Linked DNA regions of Homo sapiens: region 2 is linked to region 1. Evidence: fine-mapped expression QTL. A gene starts in region 1. The other region holds a variant in brackets. All regions are shown on one strand. Distances are between the middles of the regions.

Evidence for each region.
Region 2: its variant is fine-mapped to the expression of DTX4 in tibial nerve (GTEx, PIP 0.97).

Annotation. Positions count from the first base shown.
Region 1 is chr11:59,166,796-59,175,798 of GRCh38, reverse strand. DTX4 (deltex E3 ubiquitin ligase 4) reads right to left here and starts at 3,667. Exons shown (of 9, transcript NM_015177.2): 1 at 2,993-3,667. The coding sequence starts at 3,203. LOC124902601 (basic proline-rich protein-like) reads left to right here and starts at 2,354. Exons shown (of 2, transcript XM_047427951.1): 1 at 2,354-2,534; 2 at 3,069-5,724. The coding sequence starts at 2,354. The coding sequence ends at 3,877. It overlaps LOC124902675 (a long non-coding RNA gene), which reads left to right. Exons shown (of 4, transcript XR_007062682.1): 4 at 1,302-2,100. RefSeq lists silencers at 834-903, 3,051-3,100, 3,161-3,730 and enhancers at 2,601-2,710, 2,153-2,981, 3,609-3,903, 3,990-4,530.
Region 2 is chr11:59,188,528-59,197,530 of GRCh38, reverse strand. It overlaps DTX4 (deltex E3 ubiquitin ligase 4), which reads right to left. Exons shown (of 9, transcript NM_015177.2): 3 at 8,735-8,796; 4 at 8,208-8,369; 5 at 6,356-6,417; 6 at 5,281-5,433; 7 at 2,162-2,323. LOC124902675 (a long non-coding RNA gene) reads left to right here and starts at 5,429. Exons shown (of 4, transcript XR_007062682.1): 1 at 5,429-7,884. The variant T/ACGT (reference allele first, on the strand shown) is at 4,399.

The DNA of each region.
Region 1 (9,003 bases):
TCTTCCGCATCCTGCTACTGAAAACCTGGAGTTGGTAGGGTCAGGCATGCTGAAAGGTACAGGGGAAAGTGATGCTGAAGTAAAGCTCTTCAGTCACTGCCCTACAACAGAAAAAGGACAACCCAGTCAAGGTAAATGATGGCAGGTGGAGAGGGGCCCACCGAGGCTTTTGGAAGTGGCCAAGAGCCAGTCCCATCTATCTCACCCCATCTCTACCCTTATTCCAGATTCTCTAGCCCAAAATGCCTAGAGAAGACTGGCATAGAATGCAAATAAGATCAGACCTCTAGGCAGTCTGGGGAAGGAGAAGGGCCCAGGGCAAACAGAGGCGGGCAGACGGGTGTCTGGGACCTCCCAGCCATCTCCCTGGAGACAGGCTGGATGAGGTCAGGAGCCCAGGCGAGTGGAGAGCCTGAGGACTCTATCAGCAGCAGAGCAAGCAACTTCTAAAAAGACAAAGCTCTCATGTCAGGAAATGTCCCCATACAGAGGAGGCAACAAAAAAGGAGAGGAATCGCCTCTGGGCAGGGGACTTCCAGATCTCTTTTGTTTATGGGGATGTTTCTGGTTCCCAGCTTTGAATTATGGCTTAAGGATGGTGGGTAATTTAATTAAACATTGCAAGGGCTTAGCTGAGGTTGCCTGGGAGCCACTGGTTTAAAGTTCCTACCCTGTCATGGCCTCATCAATGAGATTGAGAGGAACTATGAGTGTGTTGGTGGAGAAGGGAGAGGAGGGGGCTCAGAGCTAAGAAACCCAGAGATTCTTCTATTCTTCTTTGACAAGCGCCCTGACAGACCCAGCTTTTCTGGGAATTCAGCCCAGTGTCCGCAGCACCCAGCACAGGGCCTGGCGCACAGCAGAGAGGTATTCAGGATGGCTGACTGACTCTAGCAATGAGCGGATGAAACCACAGCAGTCTGATGATAAACACACCCTGAGGCAGCCTTTAAAATGATTCAGGGCAAGTTCTCTGCCTGAGGTTTAAAGTCCAGGGAGCGCCAGCCTCTGACTAAATTGCTCACCACCAGGCAGTCCTCAGGTAAGAGTGATCAGACCTGGGAAACGTAGCTTCTTTCCTTCCACCCAGTTTTCTCTACAACTTCGCTTCTGTAGAAAGGGTCATGAACCTTTGTAGATACCTTGCCTATCCTAAGTACCCCCAAACACAGATTCCACCTTTGCCCTTTCCAAATGTGGGAAAGGGGCTGAGACGTTTCTGTCACAAGGGTGGTTTTCCAAATGCTGTAGAGATTTACTCTGAAATAGAAAAGGTAACACCTGCTTTTTTTTTTTTCCAGGACTGGAATCCCCTGTCAGATGCTTTAACTGCTGGTCTCTCTCTCTCTCTCTGGTCCCACCTCCGTGGCTCAGCTCCGCCCAACACACACCCCCTCCACCCTCACCTTCTGATGCCTCCACCCTCACCTCCACAACCTTTACCCAAGTTGCGCAATGACATTCTCTCCCTCCCCCTCAGCCACACTTAATCCTCTTTCTCAATCTCCCCACATTCCTCTCTATTCTCTGCTCCTCCCAGTCTCCCTCAGCTCCACACACGGTTGAAGCCCCTCCAGATTCTAACACTTCCAGAATCCTCTCCCCAGAAAGCTCTCCTCAATCAGCCAGTGTCTGCAGAGTCCTTGGCAAAGGGGTTGCTGGGAGTTATGACTAAAGATGGGGACATGAGGGTGGAAAGATACCCCTTTCCCATGACAATCCTAATTAGCACACAGGATGTGGGGGCTTTCCAAGGAAGCAGAGAGACTCTGCTCAAACAGCTGTTCACTGGGGAGGGCCTTTCCGAGTCATCTTCTCTACGTCCTCCCCAGCACACCGGCCTCTCCAGGCTCCTCGGTTGCACTCTTGGGAAAGCCGAGCCAGAATTCCAGAAACAATGGCCCCCTCCCCACCTGTCACTGACGGAGGCAGAAACTCTTCCCGGGTCATCGATTAAGCAAGGACCGAGCAAAGAGAGGCAGTTTTGCTCTCCCTTGGGCAGCACCCCCACTCCCCACCCCCCAAGGCCCCATCCTGGAGGCTCCCTTCCTGGCTCTGACCTGGAAAGGCAGGTCAGCTGGGAAGCGGGTTTGTGCTGGCTACAGTGACAACTTGATTCTCATGAAAAGATAGGAGTTTGGCGCTCCAGGAGACCATGGGTTCCTTACAGGCTATGGTTTCAAGAGGAAGCCTGGGGACAGTTTCTCCTTAGGAATCTGCGTCCTCCTCCTCCGCAGACAAAGGGAGCGGCTTCCCTGCCATGCATTCCGAAGCCCCGAGCCTCCCCCTCCTCTCTCCATCTGCTCCGGCCTGTTGCTTCCGCGCATGTAGTGTGTAGCAGAGGCATTCGCCAATGCCGCGGCGTCCAGGGTACCCCAGCCCTAGTCTCTCCTCCCAGGGAGCCCGGCGCTTCCCTTACCCGACTGTAGCGAGAACCTCCGGGGAATCCCTTCTTCCTCCCCCAGTTCCCACACCCAGGACCCAGCTGCGGGGAGGCATCCCACACAGGAGACGCAGAGGCAGTGAGATCGGGGGTGAGGGGACGTGTGGCAAGCCCCAGCGTGCCTGAAGCAAAACAGGGTCAGGTCAGCCAAGGTGCCGGCCGCCACGGGATGAGGGCAGGAAGCCTTTGCGAAGGGCTGGGATTGCCTGTAGTCTGGGGCGGCCCTAGAATTTCTACATAGAAAGACTTAGGGCCACCAACTGCTGAAAAGCGGGGGCATGAAAGGGGTGGGGAGTGGATTGTTACCGACTAGGTTGAAGCTGGGTTTGCAAAACCACAACACTGATACTATTTGCATGGATGTTTAAGGGGGAGGGAGGATCCTGCGAGGATTCAGCGGAGTGAATCGCCTCCCACCACCACCTCTTGGTGACACTGCTGCACAGAAGTGCCGACTAGGTGGCCAAGGTGGGTTCACAGGGAGGGAGGTACCTTGGCAGGTTGGGAAGGTGGGAGCAGGCGGGGCGGGGTCAGGGGCGGCTGGCTCACCCGTGTCTTGGCGGAACTGGTTCATGGACTGCAGGTCGATGATGTAGGGCGCGAGACGGCTGTCCACCTGGCCCAGCACCACGCTGCCCCCCGCGCGGGGGCCGGCGCGGACCACCGCCTCGATGTGGTGGCTCACCGCTGGGCTGTAGGGACGCCAGCGGCCGTGCTCGTTCAGCCATTCCCAGACCACCACGGCCGAGGCCAGGAGCATGGCGAGCCCGGGGCTGCGGCGCTGCGCGGCCCGCCTCCCGGGCCCCGAGCGCCCGACCTCCTCCGCTTCCTCCTGCGCCGCCGCCTCCGGGCCTCGACCGCGCCCCCTGCCCCGCGCCCCGCCGCCCCGGGCAGCCTCAGCTCCGGCCCATGGGCTCCTCCCCAGCCGTGCATCCACCGGGGCCGGGACACCGGGGCCGCCTGGCTGGGACCGCGCGCCGCCGCCGCCGCCGGGGTCCGCTGCTGCTGCCGCTGCTCTGTGGGGTCGAGTCGCTTCATGCAAATGCCCGGCTCTCTGCAAACAGGCCCCCGCCTTGCAAAAGCCACTCGGCGGGCGCGCGGCCCGAGCCCCGGCGGCCGCGAGCTGGGGCTGACGGCGAGGCAAGGACCCAGCCCTCGCACCAGTTGCGCCTCGGCCTCTGCAGACGCCGGGGTGGGATCTCGCCGCACGGCCGCGCTCGGAATGGCACGCTCTGGTCCCCTCCCCTCTCTCCCTCCCTCCCCACCCCTTCGCCGCACGAATTGCAGTCCCCGCCGCTGGGAGAGCTCCCCCTGCCTGTGGCTCTGCTCAGTTCCTTCCAGAATGAACCACCCCTCCCAAGCAGGGCGCTAAGGCAAACCCGCGCCCGCGTGTGTTTCCCTGGTTCCTTGATGCAGAGAAGCGACCCGCCATGACACGGCCCCGGGACCACCACTGTCGCCCAGCCGCAACTTTGCAGCCTCCTTCCCCCAAATGTAATTTTCTCTCTCTCTCTCTTTTTTTTTCCTTAATGCAGCATGATCAGTGTCCGCAGCGCGAACTGGAGACACGCATTGTCTCGGGGCTTGCGCACGCACTGGCACACTCACAGTCGCACACACACGCGCGCGCACCCCAACTCCTTCCTTGCCCCGGCTCCTATTACCTCATCCTCTCCCGCATCCTTAGCTGTCCGTCAAGGAAGCAGAAGACACGCCCCCTGCTGCTCGGGCGAGTGCCCTGGAGCTTACCCGCCCCCTGCTGGCCTAAAGTGTCGTGTGCCGGCCAGTGGCCACTCCAACCTCTGCTAATGAGACCCAGTCCAAAGGGATGCAGCAATTTCGCTAATGATGGATTTATATTACCTACGTAGAGAGCAAATGTGGTTTTTCTGGCCAGATTCAACGTACTAGAGTCAGGAAGACGCATGTTAGATTAATTTTATCTGCATCGTTTCTGTAACTAAAATTATGAAACACTAGGAAAAACACGAGTTAGACTTATTTTGATCATCAATAGTTAATATGGAAAATAACCTTAAATAGGTAGGTTCTGACTAAAAGGGAAGACTGAAGTCAGGATTATGCATTATCCTTGTCAAAGAACACAAATTTTGTTTTGTTGAGATTGCAAACCACATAAAACAACGAATCGAGTCTTATCAAGATCCAAGTTATAGGATGCGGGAAAGTAAAAATAGATTATGTGTTAGAGAATGGGATTGTGAATCTTTTTGAAATAATCAATTTTTTCATAAATATCATATGACCCTTTTATGTTTTAGAAGAGTTGCTTCCCCCTCCCTCTCCTTGCAGCTGTCATTTCTCCCATTGTTAGAATTTTGCATCCTTCTACCTTTATCTTTCTCCCAACAGAGTTCTAAATACAAAGCAAAAGAAAAAGTGTGAGATCTGTTCTTCTTCAGGCCCCTAAAGGCACCAGGCTCAAGGAACCTCTGAGCTTTGTTCTTTCTGGTCTTCTTGCACAGCTTGGCCTCCAAAATGCCTAGTCGGCCTCTCCCTTATTTGGGGACTGTTCCTAATCCAACCTAAACAATACCACTCATTAAAATGTCGAGTTTCAGAATTAGAAGAACAAAAAGAAAACAAGGATACCTCGACTAATTATATCATAGGCCATTATTATTACCATTTTACAAATGACAGGACTTAAGGAATTTAAACTATTTGCCCTAGATTACATAGCTAGTTAGAGGGGAAACCAGTATTCAAAATTTAGTTGGGCTGTCTCAAAAGAAAATGCCTGTTCCATAGCATGTCCTATACAACACAGAGGTGGCACAATAACAGGCAATGTAGAAGTGTCTCAGTGTGAAAGAAGGGAAGGGAGAAAATGGGGGTAGAATTTTCTGGAAAAGAAACAGAAGGCAAACTGAAGAAAAAGTAATTTAAAAATTTATTGGGCTACTTTTATTTCTAGTCATAAAAATGGAAAGTATCAAAACTCAGGAAACTTTCTTATAGTCTTGGTAAGTATGAATCAAAAAGTGAAGAGTAATGATTCAAGGGGATATTGGAAGTACCAGCGAAAATATAGCACCTGACCAGCTAAGCCAGAAATTCCAAGGTGAAAAAAATCTAAACTAGATAAGCAGGCTACCAGCAAATGTTAGATGAGCTGTTTGAAAGGCGAATGGAAGGCAGAAGGAAACTGACGCCTACCTGCCTATGTCCAGCCTAGTTTTGTATCTGGTCTTCTTGTATCTTCCATGTTAAACACAACAGAGTATTACAGCAGAATAAAAATATCTTATGACATGTGAGAAGGTTTGTATGTAGTCTGATTCATTTGCAAGAGGAAGTGAATACACACACACACATACACACATATACACACAAATGAGAGGGGTCTTTAAAATTTTATGGAAAATGCATATTATGAAAAAACTAGGCTGGTAGTTCAAATTGTTTTTTTGCACCCAAATAAACTCATACTAACTTGTTATAACATGTCTGAACAGGATCTAGTTTGAGACACTAAGAAGGGTAAGACAATGCCCTTACTGAAGAGGATCAAGGATTAGCAGTCAAAACAATAGCCTACACCATAGATATGTCAACTGGTTCAGCTTACACAATTCTGACAAAGAAATTAAACTTTCCATTCCTTGATAGGTGCCAAAACCATTGCACCCAGGTTGGCCACAGACAAGAGCAGGCCTTTCAATAGAGATTTTAAATGGGTGGGATCAGGATCATGAAACATTTCTTTGAAGAATTGTAACAGGAGATGAAACATTACCAGTATAATCCTGATGACAAGGAACAACCAAAGCAATGGCTATCAAGAGGTAGAAGTGGTCCAGTCAAAGCAAAAGTGCACTGGTCAAAAGCAGAGACCATGGCAACAATTTTTTGGAGATGCTCAAGGCATTTTACTTACTGACTTTCTGGAGGGCCAGAGAACAATAACATCTGCCTAATATGAGAGTATTTTGCAAAAATTAGCAACAGCTTTAGGATAAAATACCTGGGAAAGCTTCACCAGAGTCGTTCTCCACCATGGCAATGTTCATGCTCATTCCTCTCATCAAACAAACGCACTTTTGTGAGCAATTTGATGGAAAATCTTTTAATCTGCTGTACAGTCCTGATTTGGCTCCTCTGACTTCTTTTTGTTTCCTAATCTTAAAAAATTTTTTAAAGAGCATCTGTTTTTCTATAGTAAAGTAAAACTGCATTGATATGGTTAGGGTCCCAGGACACTCAGTTCTTTAGTGATGGACTAAATGATTCATATCATCACCTACAAAATATCTTGAACTTGATGGTGCTTATGTTGAGAAATAAAGTGTACATTTTTTATTTTGTTTTTTAATTTTATTTTTCACAAACTTTTGGAAGTCCCCTCGTGTTTGTGTGTGTATGACTTGACATTAATAGTAAATTATAGATGTAAAATATTTGTATTTTAATAATCCATGATAATTTATAGTTTATCATGACCCAATTAGAAATAATAATTTATAATTATGTATAAATAATTATTATATATGTATATACATTTCTTAGATCTTCTAACACAATCCTAATTTCAAATAATCTGTACCATAAACCCTGAAAATCTCAGAAATTCCATTTTATTTATTTATTTATTTTTTGAGACAAAATCTTGCTCTTGTCCCCTAGGCTGGAGTGCAATGGCATGATCTCGGCTCACTGCAACCTCCTCCTCCCAGGTTCAAGCGATTCTCCTGCCTCAGCCTCCCCAGTAGCTAGGATTACAGGTGCCTGTGACCAGGCCCGGCTAATTTTTGTAGTTTTAGTAGAGATGGGGTTTCACCATGTTGGCCAGGCTGGTCTCGAACTCCGGACTCAGGTGATCCGCCCGCCTTGGCCTCCCAAAGTGCTGGGATTACAGGCATGAGCCACCGTGCCTGGCCGACATTCCATTTTAGTATCCAAACTATATCTCCCAAATTGTCTCCTGTACTCATAAGTGGCATAAAAATCTTTAACCAAATGATATGCCAAATTTTTAATTTGAACATATGATGGCTATAATAAAACCTCACTAATTGAGACTATGAAGCCAGTTTTGAACTGTTCAAAGGTACAATTTGATGATACTTCAAAAAAGGTCGTCATTGTCTAACACAAAGATTCAGTGAAAAAGCCGCTTCTCTTCTTTTTCTGTGGAATGTTCATAGACAAAGCCCTTTTTTTTTTCAATTACCTATTATTATGTAATAAAGCACCCTAAAACTGGTGGCTAAAAACAGCAGCAAGCGTTTATTTTTCAAACACATCTGCACTTTGGGGAGGGCTTCCAAGGACAGCTGGTCTTTGCTACACACAGCATTAGCTCAAGGGAGCTCTCAGGAAAGCAGGTGGCTGGAATCATCTGTAGGTTTGCTCATTCATAAGTCTACTGCTTGATACTGGCTGTTATCTGGGCACTCAACTAGGGCTATCAGCCCAAGTACCTACACATGGCCTGTCCATGTGATTGATGGGCATTCTCACAACACAGAAGTTAGTTTCCAAATAAACGAGAGGCAAGAGAAAAAGCCAGGCAGAAGATGCATTGCATTTTAATTTTTTATTTTAAAATAATTTAAATTCACATGCAGTTATAAGAAACAGACAGAGCCTGTGTATCCTCAACATCCCATAAAACTATAGGAAAACTATAGTGCAATACCATTGCTGATATTGACACAGTTAAGATACAGAATGGTTACAATTCTGCTCCATTATTGATATAATACCATTGTGTCACACATTATACAATACACATTTTGTATACAATATACATTTTCCACACCACAAGGATTTCTCATGTTGCCCTAAAAGGTCACACCCACTAATTCCTCCCCACTACCATCCTGTCCATAACTCCTGGCAATAACTAATATGTTCTCCATATTTATGATTTTGTCATTTCAAGAATATTATGCAAATGGATCATAGAGCATTCAATCTTTTAAGATAGGCTTTTTCCACTCAGCTTAATTCTCTAAAGATTCATCCAAGTTGTGTGTATCAAGAGAAGTTTGTTTCTTTTTATTGCTAAGTAGTGTTCCATAGTATCCATGGACCACCTTACTGTTCATCCATGGAAGTTCATATAAGTTGTTTCTAGTTTGGGCTATTATGAATAAAGCTACTATGAACACTCTCATCCAGGTTTTTGTGTGAAGGTAAAGTATCCATTTCTCTGTGATAAATGCCTAGGAGTACAATGGCAAGGTCATAGGGTAGTTGCATGTTTAGCTTTTTTAACAAACTGCCAGTTTTCTAAAGTGGCTGCACCATTTTGAATTTTCACCAGCAATATACCCATGATCTGGTCACTACATCTTCACCATCATTTTTTGGTCAGTATATTTTATTTTAGCCATTTTGGTAAGTGTGTAGAGTTATTTCATTGTTTTTAACTTGTTTCCTTATTGACTAATAATGTTGAACATCTTTCCATGCGTTTATTTGCCATATATGCTCTTTGATATCTGTTCAGGTCTTTTGCTGGTTTCTGTTTTCTATTATTGAAATTAGAGAGTTCTTTTTATATTCTAAATATTGGGCTGGGCACAGTGGCT
Region 2 (9,003 bases), 22 kb before region 1:
GATTAAAATCCACGACCCCCGCCCTGGTACTCAATGCCTTCTATGATCTGGCTGCAACCTCCCTCACGGCCTAGTCTTCTCCCTCCATCTCCTTCATGCTTCCTCCCTCTACTTCCTTGCGAGTCTTGAGCCCCAAATTAAACCCTTCCTTCTTGCCCTTTGATACTCAAATTTTTCCTCTACAACCCTCTTACCTCCTCCCACTAAAAATGTTCTCCTCCATTTTTTTATGTCTTTCTAGACTCAACTAGACAATTCCCTGCACTAGAAAGTCTCCTCTAACCCTTCCAGACAGACAGACAGATATAAGCCCTCCTCTTTACCATGACAAGCAGGACCTAAAATGATGTTGACGACCAGGTATTGAGCACCTTGGTACTGTGCTCATTCTTCAATATGCATAGGCAAACGTTATTTCCCATTCTCACCAAACCTCTGCCAATTGGGCTCCTGGCTGGGCAGGTGAAGAAATCAGGCTCCAAAAGGTCAAGGGCCTGTTGTCTAAAACAGCTGTCCCCAACCATTTTGGCCCCAGGGACTGGTTTTGTGCAAGACAACTTTTCAATGGACCGGGGTGGTGGGGGATGGTTTTGGGATGATGCAAGAGCATTACATTTATTGCACACTTTCTTTCTATTGTTATTACATTGCAATATATAACAAAATAATTACACAACTCACCATAATGAAGAATCAGTGAGATACCTGAACTTGTTTCCCTGCAACTAGATGGCCTCATCTGGGCATGATGGGAGACAGTGACAGATCATCAGGCATTAGATTCTCATAAGGAGTGCACGACCTAGATCCGTCACATGCACAGTTCACAATAGAGTTTGTGTTCCTATGAGAATCTAAGGCTGCCACTTATCTGGCAGGAGGCAGAGCACAGGTGGTATTACTGGCTCACCCATCACTCACCTCCTACTGTGCGGCCCCTTCTGTGGCCTGAGGGTTGGGAACCCCTGGGCTGAAGGCACCAGCTAATAAAGACTCAGCTAGGAAGGGGAACCCAGGTCCATTGGACTTTGAAGGCCTGTGTTCTCACTTTGTCTACGTTGCATCTCAGAGGTTTTATTAGTGATGTACATTTATCTTCCCCTGACTGGCTGGTAAGCCCCTCCAGGAAGAACTATGAATTATTCACTTCTTTTACAGGCTATCACAACTTCCTGTTTTATTTCCTCCACATCGATGATCACTATCTGGAGGTACCTTGTTTATTCATTTGTTTCCTTTATGGCCTTCCTGGCCCCACTAGAATAGGGGCTTCAAGGAGCAAGGATTGCGTCTACTTTGCTCATTGCTTCTCCAATGTCTAGAACATGTCTGGACCATAATCCACACTCCATGTTTGTTAAATAAAAGACAAAATGGAAGAAGAAAACTAGGAGGGAGGAAAAGAGGATAGAAGAATTAATATTTGCTAAAGAAATGCATACAGTCAACGGCCCAGAACACTCAGAAAAAGCTTCATTGTGTGAAGGAAGGTGCCACATTTGTATTTACTGGCAGGAATAGTGTTCAGATTTGTTCTTCAGGACTGTCTTTCAGAGAATCAAAAGAGGAAAGAAATGCCCACCAAAATCAAAGCCAAGTATAGCTATCAAATTACAAGTGCAAATACCGTTTGACAAAGAAATTCCACTTCTGGAAAATTATTCTACAGATATATTCACATGTGTACAAGGTTATTCATTCCAGCATTATTTGTTGTAGCCAAAGATTGGCAACAATCCATATGCCCATCAAATGGAGACTGCTGAATGCAAATAGTGGTACATTTATACAATGGATGATTACACAGACACAAGAACGAGGAAGCTCTCTCTATACTGATGTGGAAAGATCTACAGACTACATTGTTAACTGAAAAGCGCAGGGTGCCAAACAATGTGCCTAAATGTCACTGTTTGTGAAAAAAAAAAGGGAAGGGTGGATGCGATTTTCTGTTGTGTGTGCACAAAGAATCCTGGAAGGATACATAGGAAAGTCAGAACAATAGTGTTGAGTCGGGGGATGTAGTGTCAGCGGGCAAGGCTGGGTAGATGGCGGAAAAGTGTGGGAAGGAGACTCTTCATATGTAACTTTTTACCTACAAACACATAGAACAATAAAAACCAAGGGGTGACAGAAAGGCTCACCTGAGAGAAAGGCTCACCTGAATGCCGGGGGGGATGCTGTAGATGATCCGGATGGTTTTGCAGTCTGGGTGGCCAGGCAAGGAGTGGGGGATGAGGTGGTACTCCATCTTCCCTGGAGGTTGGGTGCCTGTCTTCACCCCATAAATGGTCTTGCAGGTTGGACACTGCAAACTTCCATCCTGAGGGGCCAAGGCCAGAAGAGCCAGATTGGGAAACAGTTTTGGTAATAACTTTCCCACCCAGTCCCAAAAGGTACCAGAGATGAAGGGCCAGGGGAACAAAATGCACCCTGGTGAGTGATAGATCTTAGTTTTTCCCTCCCAGCCCAGTCACCTAGGCTATTTCTGCTTTCTCCAAAGTAATAGGAGGTAAATTCCACAACTGGTCCCATGCTCCATGCTGAGGGATATGTAAGAGAAGCCCCTGTCCCTGAGGAGGGGACCAGCTCTCTAGGGCAGGAGCCTACACAGGGAGTCATTATTCAGCCACTCAGTACCAAATGGGTGGAACAGACAGAAAGACCTGGAGAGCAGCAACTGCCCAGTTCCTGAGCATCAGAATCACCCACAGAGCTTGTTAATCACACAGATGCCTGGGCACCACATCGGGTCCACTGAGTAAGAACTGGGAAGCTGCAAAGCATAATGTTTCAGGCTGTGAATGTGAAAATCAGACTGCCTAGACGTAATTCTTAGCTCTGCCATCTGACTGCTGTGTGACCTTGGACAAATTAATTAACTTCTCTGAGTCTCAGTTTCCCTTATAGGAGAAGGATAAAAAATATCTGTCTCATCGGGTTGTTGGGAGAATTAAATGAGATAATCTATAGGAAGATCTTAGCATGTGGTGTATCTAAATGTTATTAGCATTTTTATAATTTCCATGGAAAGACTGATGCTCATACAGGTTTGGAAACTACTGCTATGAAAAGAGAAATTGGCCACTAAGAGCTGGAGTAAATGAGGATAACTTTAAGAAAATGGTCCTTGAAGAATAGCTATGAATTTGCTTAGAAGGATAGAGTGTAAGGTCTGCACAAATACCTAGAAGAGAGAATGATGCCAGTAATTATAGTGCTTTAAATCATACTATAAAGAGTTTAATATTTCTTGTTTCATTTAGGCTTTAGCTTCTGACAATGGCCTGGAAGAAATTATTAGCCCCTTTTTGTAGAGAGGAAAATCGAGGCACAGCAAGATTAAAGGACTTCCTGCTTGTCAGGGTGTGGGGTCTGTTTAAACCCCCAGCTTTGCATTGCAACTCGGTGGCTCCATTAGTGGGAAGAGGCAGTTCTGGATGCAGGGGTGTACAGGGTGACGGTTTCACTGCAGGACCTGGTGAGGTGCTGCCTGGAGGAGGGCCTGGACACCGAATCCTATTCCCAGGCTCGCAAAAAGGAGGGGCAAAGAGAAGGAAGGCGCATGGGCTGGGAGCAACGTGTGTAAAATGTGCTGCTGCGCAGCTGGGATGAAAGCTTGCCAGGACATCCCCAACTCCTCGGGAAGACAGGGATCCTCTGCTGAGCTATTTAGGGACTTCTCCAGTCTACTCGCTTAAAGCAATAGCTCGTATTCAGGGTGACTATTCTCTGAAACCAGGTTCCCACTTTCTGCTTTGGCCTTGACTTGCTTCATGACCTAGGGTGAATCACTCCTTTCTTCTTGGGCCCTTTTCTCTCATGTGTTTGATAAAATAAAAACACATGCTTCAAAGTATTAGTGCAAAAGAGAATAAAGCATAGACTCTTGAGAAACATTTTTGAAAGCCCCATGGAAATAAATGTAGAGTTACCATATTCTTCTTGAATATAGACATCAAATAGGGAACAAATGTGCTAAGAAACCCCTTTAAGCCCAAAATAACTTCTTGAAATGCAAGATCCCAATGAATCCTTTTAGCCCAGGGTTGGGAAAGTGAGCAAGTGATCCAGATTTGCATCCCCCATCAATGACTGACCACCACTATAAGCATGTCTCTCAGGGACACCAAGAAAGCACTTTGGGAACTTCAATCAAATAGGCTACATGAAGATGAAGGAAAAAATTACAGCCTTTAATACAAAGGCGATATCAATTTGAATAATAATAGCATAAGACCCCATAAAGTAGGTATAGTTTTAATCTCCATTTTCCAGATGGAAAGTCTCTCTCAGAGATTGGAAAACCTTGTCCAAGGTCATTCAGCTAATAAGCCAGGATTCAAGCTCAGGTCTCCCACCTCTCTTACCTCTACTTCTTTCCCACAGTAAGAGACG[T/ACGT]ATAGACCAGACCAGACAGACGTATAATCCAGACATACTTCTTGCTTAGTGAGAGGTTGGGAGCTATCAGGGAGATCTCAGACTCTGATGTAATCTAAGCTTGGCCTGGAGAAATAAGTACTCATGGAAATAGGGAGTAAAAGTTATCTCAGGTACACGAAAGAACATGAGTCAATGACTTAGGAAATGCTCAGACACTGTAAGGAGAGAATGATCACCTATGGAGTCTTCCAGATTCCAAAGAACCAGCTCTAATGAGGGGATACCATTGCATTGTCAGATAATAGACAAGACAAGCATCCCAAACAGCCTTCCCCTCTTCCAACAGTGGGATTCTAGGGCAGGGATTACCAGGTGTACTTTGGCAACAGTCTTTAGTACCTTTGAAGGGCCAATCAAGGGTGTTTTGAAATTGTCCAAAGAAAATTGTAGCTGAAAATCACTAACCCTGGGGAAGAAAGGGTGATTGGGAAACCCATTTACAATGGTATGAACGAATACTCACCATGGGTCTAGCGCTGTGATAAGAACTTCCTTCTCTCTCACTGATGGGAGCACACTTCACCTAGCAATGGGCCATGACAATGGGCCACTCCCCTCAGAACCCTCAGGGGCAAAACCTACCCCACTCTTAGACCTGACACCGAAGATGGAGAATTAGATAGCACAGCCCAAAAGGGAAGGTGAAGACAGGTCTTACCAGCACTGTAATTTAGTAAAGAACTGATCCTGCTGAGAACAGCCAAGATCATCACTCTTGCCTAGGGATAACCTCTAAGACTTCCCAGATCACTTGAGCAAGGGCCCTAAAGGGCCTTCACCATCTTGCTACTCCAGAGCCCAGTGTGAAGGGTGGCAGGAGCCCCATAGGCTGGCACTGACCTTGTTCCCATTGTTGTACATGGCAACCAAGCAGTAGATGTGGTAGACGTGGCCGCATCTGGACAGCTTCCCTACCAGGTCAGGTTTTACCGTAGGCTGCGGGCCCTTGTAGCCTGAGGGGGCCGTGAGGCGTTCCATACAGATGGTGCAGTCCTGGGGAGGGAGGAGACACAGCAGAGAGGCTGTCAGCTCTCACTCAGCCTGGGAGATTTCCACATGATCTCAGAGGTCAGATGAGCTCTTACCACTTCTCTTCTAAAACACCCACAAATCAGGGTGTAAGTGCTTTCTGGAATCTAAATATCGTTTTGTCTTTACACAACAACGTCCTGAAATAATTCCTGGTACTGATTAACTTGGGCTCATCATCTAAATTATCATAATCGTGAGGGCTATAACAATGCACTGTCCTTCTGTTTTGTCCTTCAACGGCTTATGGAGGAAACAAATACTGTCAACAAGCCCACTGAGGAGCTTTACTTAAGGTGAATTTTTAAGGAATGTAAAGGAATTGTATTTTAACTGTACCAGAGGGACGGCTATTTAAATAAATGTCCAACAGGGTTTCTAAACCTCAGAACTATTTACATTTTGGGGAGGACAATTCTTTGCTGTGAGGACTGTCCTGGGCATTGTAGGGTGGTTAGCACCATCCCTGGCCTCTGCTCTACTCACAAGGTCCTGAGAATAATGACGACCAAAAATGTCTCCAGACATGGCCAAATGTTCCCTCAGGGGCCAAATTGTCTCTGGTTGAGAACCACTGTTCTGTATCAAACCCATTTTAAGGTGAGTTCTTGTGGCTTATCACACTGTTTTTCCTAAATTGAGACTGTCATGTTAAGGTAGCTTAAAAACAACCAGCACTATGCTGAAGGGGGAGGCGGGAGAGATTGAGGTGCAGCTGCAGCTCTGGACCATGGACCTTGAACCCTCAGTGTCAGTTCTGACCAGTTCTGTATCCATGAGAACTTGGAATGCAGCCCCCGCCATATCCTGTAGAAACCAACAGCAGAAGAGGAAATGCTTGTGGGTGATGGAGAGGTGAATCCCGCTCTTCTAACCCTGAACTCACCTCATCTGGTGGGTGCCGGACTTTCTGTAGATATTTTTTTAGCACTTCCTCTGGGGTTTTACCTGCAGAGACAGGAGGTTCAGTGGGCCACCAAGGCAGAGGTAAGAGATCAAACAGCCTTGTCGTGCTAGACATGGTAGAGGGGGACGTTATCAGGCAAGTTAAAAGCAAAAAGGGGAGGAATTCCTTCTGCAATTTAAGTTAAGAACATGGAAGAGAGTATGGATTGTGGAAAAGCTAGTGAGATGGTTTGACGAGAAGGCTTTATTTCTTGCAGTCCCTTTTCTGACATCTCTCTGCCTATTTTCAACAAACCACTTTTTTAATTGAGAAGAGTTGAGTGGGTTTCTCTTCCTTATAATCAAATGATTTGATAACAGCACTTTGCAAACTGTTACACGTTAAATAGATGTTAGGCAGTCTTACCACCTTCATTTTACAATTTGCTAAGTGTAGTCTCAATTTATAATGTGGTGTCAAAGTGTGATTATTTTTATGGGAAACAAGGAAGTTATGACCCACGACTCCAGAACAATCTTTCCTGGCTGTGGATGGCACTGTCACTGCCAGCCAGCACAGTCCTGCAGCAGGGGAAGGGTGATCCTCTGGGAAGCATCCTGATGGGCTGCAATGATTTAGGGATTTTTTTCAGGGGACTGGACTCTTAAAAGGTAGCCCAACCTGAAGGTAGAGGATGGGATGATATAACCTGAAAAATGATCAGTGCTACCTTGGGCCACTCCCTTAATTTCTCTAAGCTTCTGTTTTCTCACCTATGAAATGGGGATGAGCAATAGCACTACCTCAAAGGGTTGCTTTGACAATTGAATGAGCAAATGGATGTACTGCCCTTTAGCTCTCTGCCAGATAAGGGCCCGATATGCACTATTAATAATAACAGGAAGAGTGGGAAAGTGTAAAATGCTGTTATTTCCGATAAGACTATGAGCAAGGCAATTGAGCTCATTTAAGCAGGGAAATCTTGACGGACTGGAAAAGTAGGACAAGGGTTTGAGGAAGTGGATCATGCAACAGCCAAAAGCTTCGATGCAGGCCCTTTCCTCCAGTTGCCCTGCTTCTCTTGTAAGAATTAAGCTCTAGTAATTAAGAGCCTATTTCTTGCCAGGCCCTGGGCTAAGTGCAACACACACATGATCCAATTTAAACTTCACAAGCCTGCAAGATTGGGGCTTAGGGAGATGGTCAAATTTAACAACTAATGCCAGTGACCAGAAAGACAAGCCACAGAGCTAAGCTGGGGTCCTGCAGTGCTAGGAAGGTACAGATATTGACCCCTTATTTGCCGGATTGCCTGCAGGTAGGAGGGGGTTCCTAAAGGAGGATTTCAGAGCAGAGATTTCTGTAGGTTCTAGGGGGACACAGGACAGGGACTACTTCCTAACTGTCATGGATGCATTCCAGGATATACCTGCTGGATACCAGTTATACCAGTTGTGACTATTTTTACTTCATTATAAAGATGAGAAAATAGGGGCTCCATGTGGTCACACAACTTGCAAGAAACAAAGGTACGATTTGAATCCAGTCTGTTTTGGTTCCAATGCCAAAGTCATCTTTCTCTTCTAACATATTTTCTTTGTACCACGCCTTATATTTTTATGTTTCTATACTTTTGCATTGTATATTTTTATTTCTCAAGGTGTTTCCATCTGATCCATACACATCAGCTGTGGTATAATCGTCAAGATTTACTGGTTAGGCCCACTTACAGATGCAGAAATTGAGGCACAGAGGGTGAAGCCGTGGCTATGACCCTTGGAGGTTGAGGCAGACTCAGGGCTGACAGCCAAGTCTTTGACTCTCAGTACCCCACGAGACAAGAGGCTGGTACCTTTCTTGGCTTGTTTTTTGGTGGTCTTGCGGCTTGTGTTGGAAACCCCTGGGATGGATTTTATTTCACTCTTGCTGACGGGGGGTGGGTGTAGGACCAGCTTTGGTGGCCTGGTGAGACACACAGGCAGCCCCGCTGCACTCATGAGGATCCCAGTGATTCCTGGAAGGGGCAGGGCATGGGTGAGGAAAGACTGGAGACTTAGCTCTCAACATTCCCCAAATTCCTCTTTCCCCATTAACCTACTCTCCTCCTTTCCAGCAGAAAGTTCTCATAATTCCTGGATTCTCTACCCTGTACTTTCCCCAGAAACTTATTCATTCACTCACTTATCTTCAATTGCATGCTTTCCTTTTAGTAATCAGTTCTCTTCCAAACTCTTCATACCCTTCCCATGCAATTCCTAAAATCACCATTTGCTTTCATTAATATCTAGATTCTCTCCTTTTTTTCCACAAATGCTCATGACCTATTTCATCACTCTGATTTCTCTACCTTAACCCAGAGCATCCTGGGGTTTCTCTTACCTGCCAAGGCAGGGTTGACAGGACTGGACCCATTTAGGTTCTTCACTGGGACTGTGGGGACCCTGTGAAAGGAAAGAGCAGATACAATGTCATTTTGACACGTGGAACAAAATGGACCAGTATTTAATTCTAATAAAATGCAGTTAAGTGCTTAACACAGCAGACAGCAGGAAGTGACATCTTCAAAACCTAAGTCAGGCCATGTCATGCCACCACTCAGAACCTCAGAACTATGTTCCTCAGTTCACTCAGAGTCAAAGTTAAAGTCC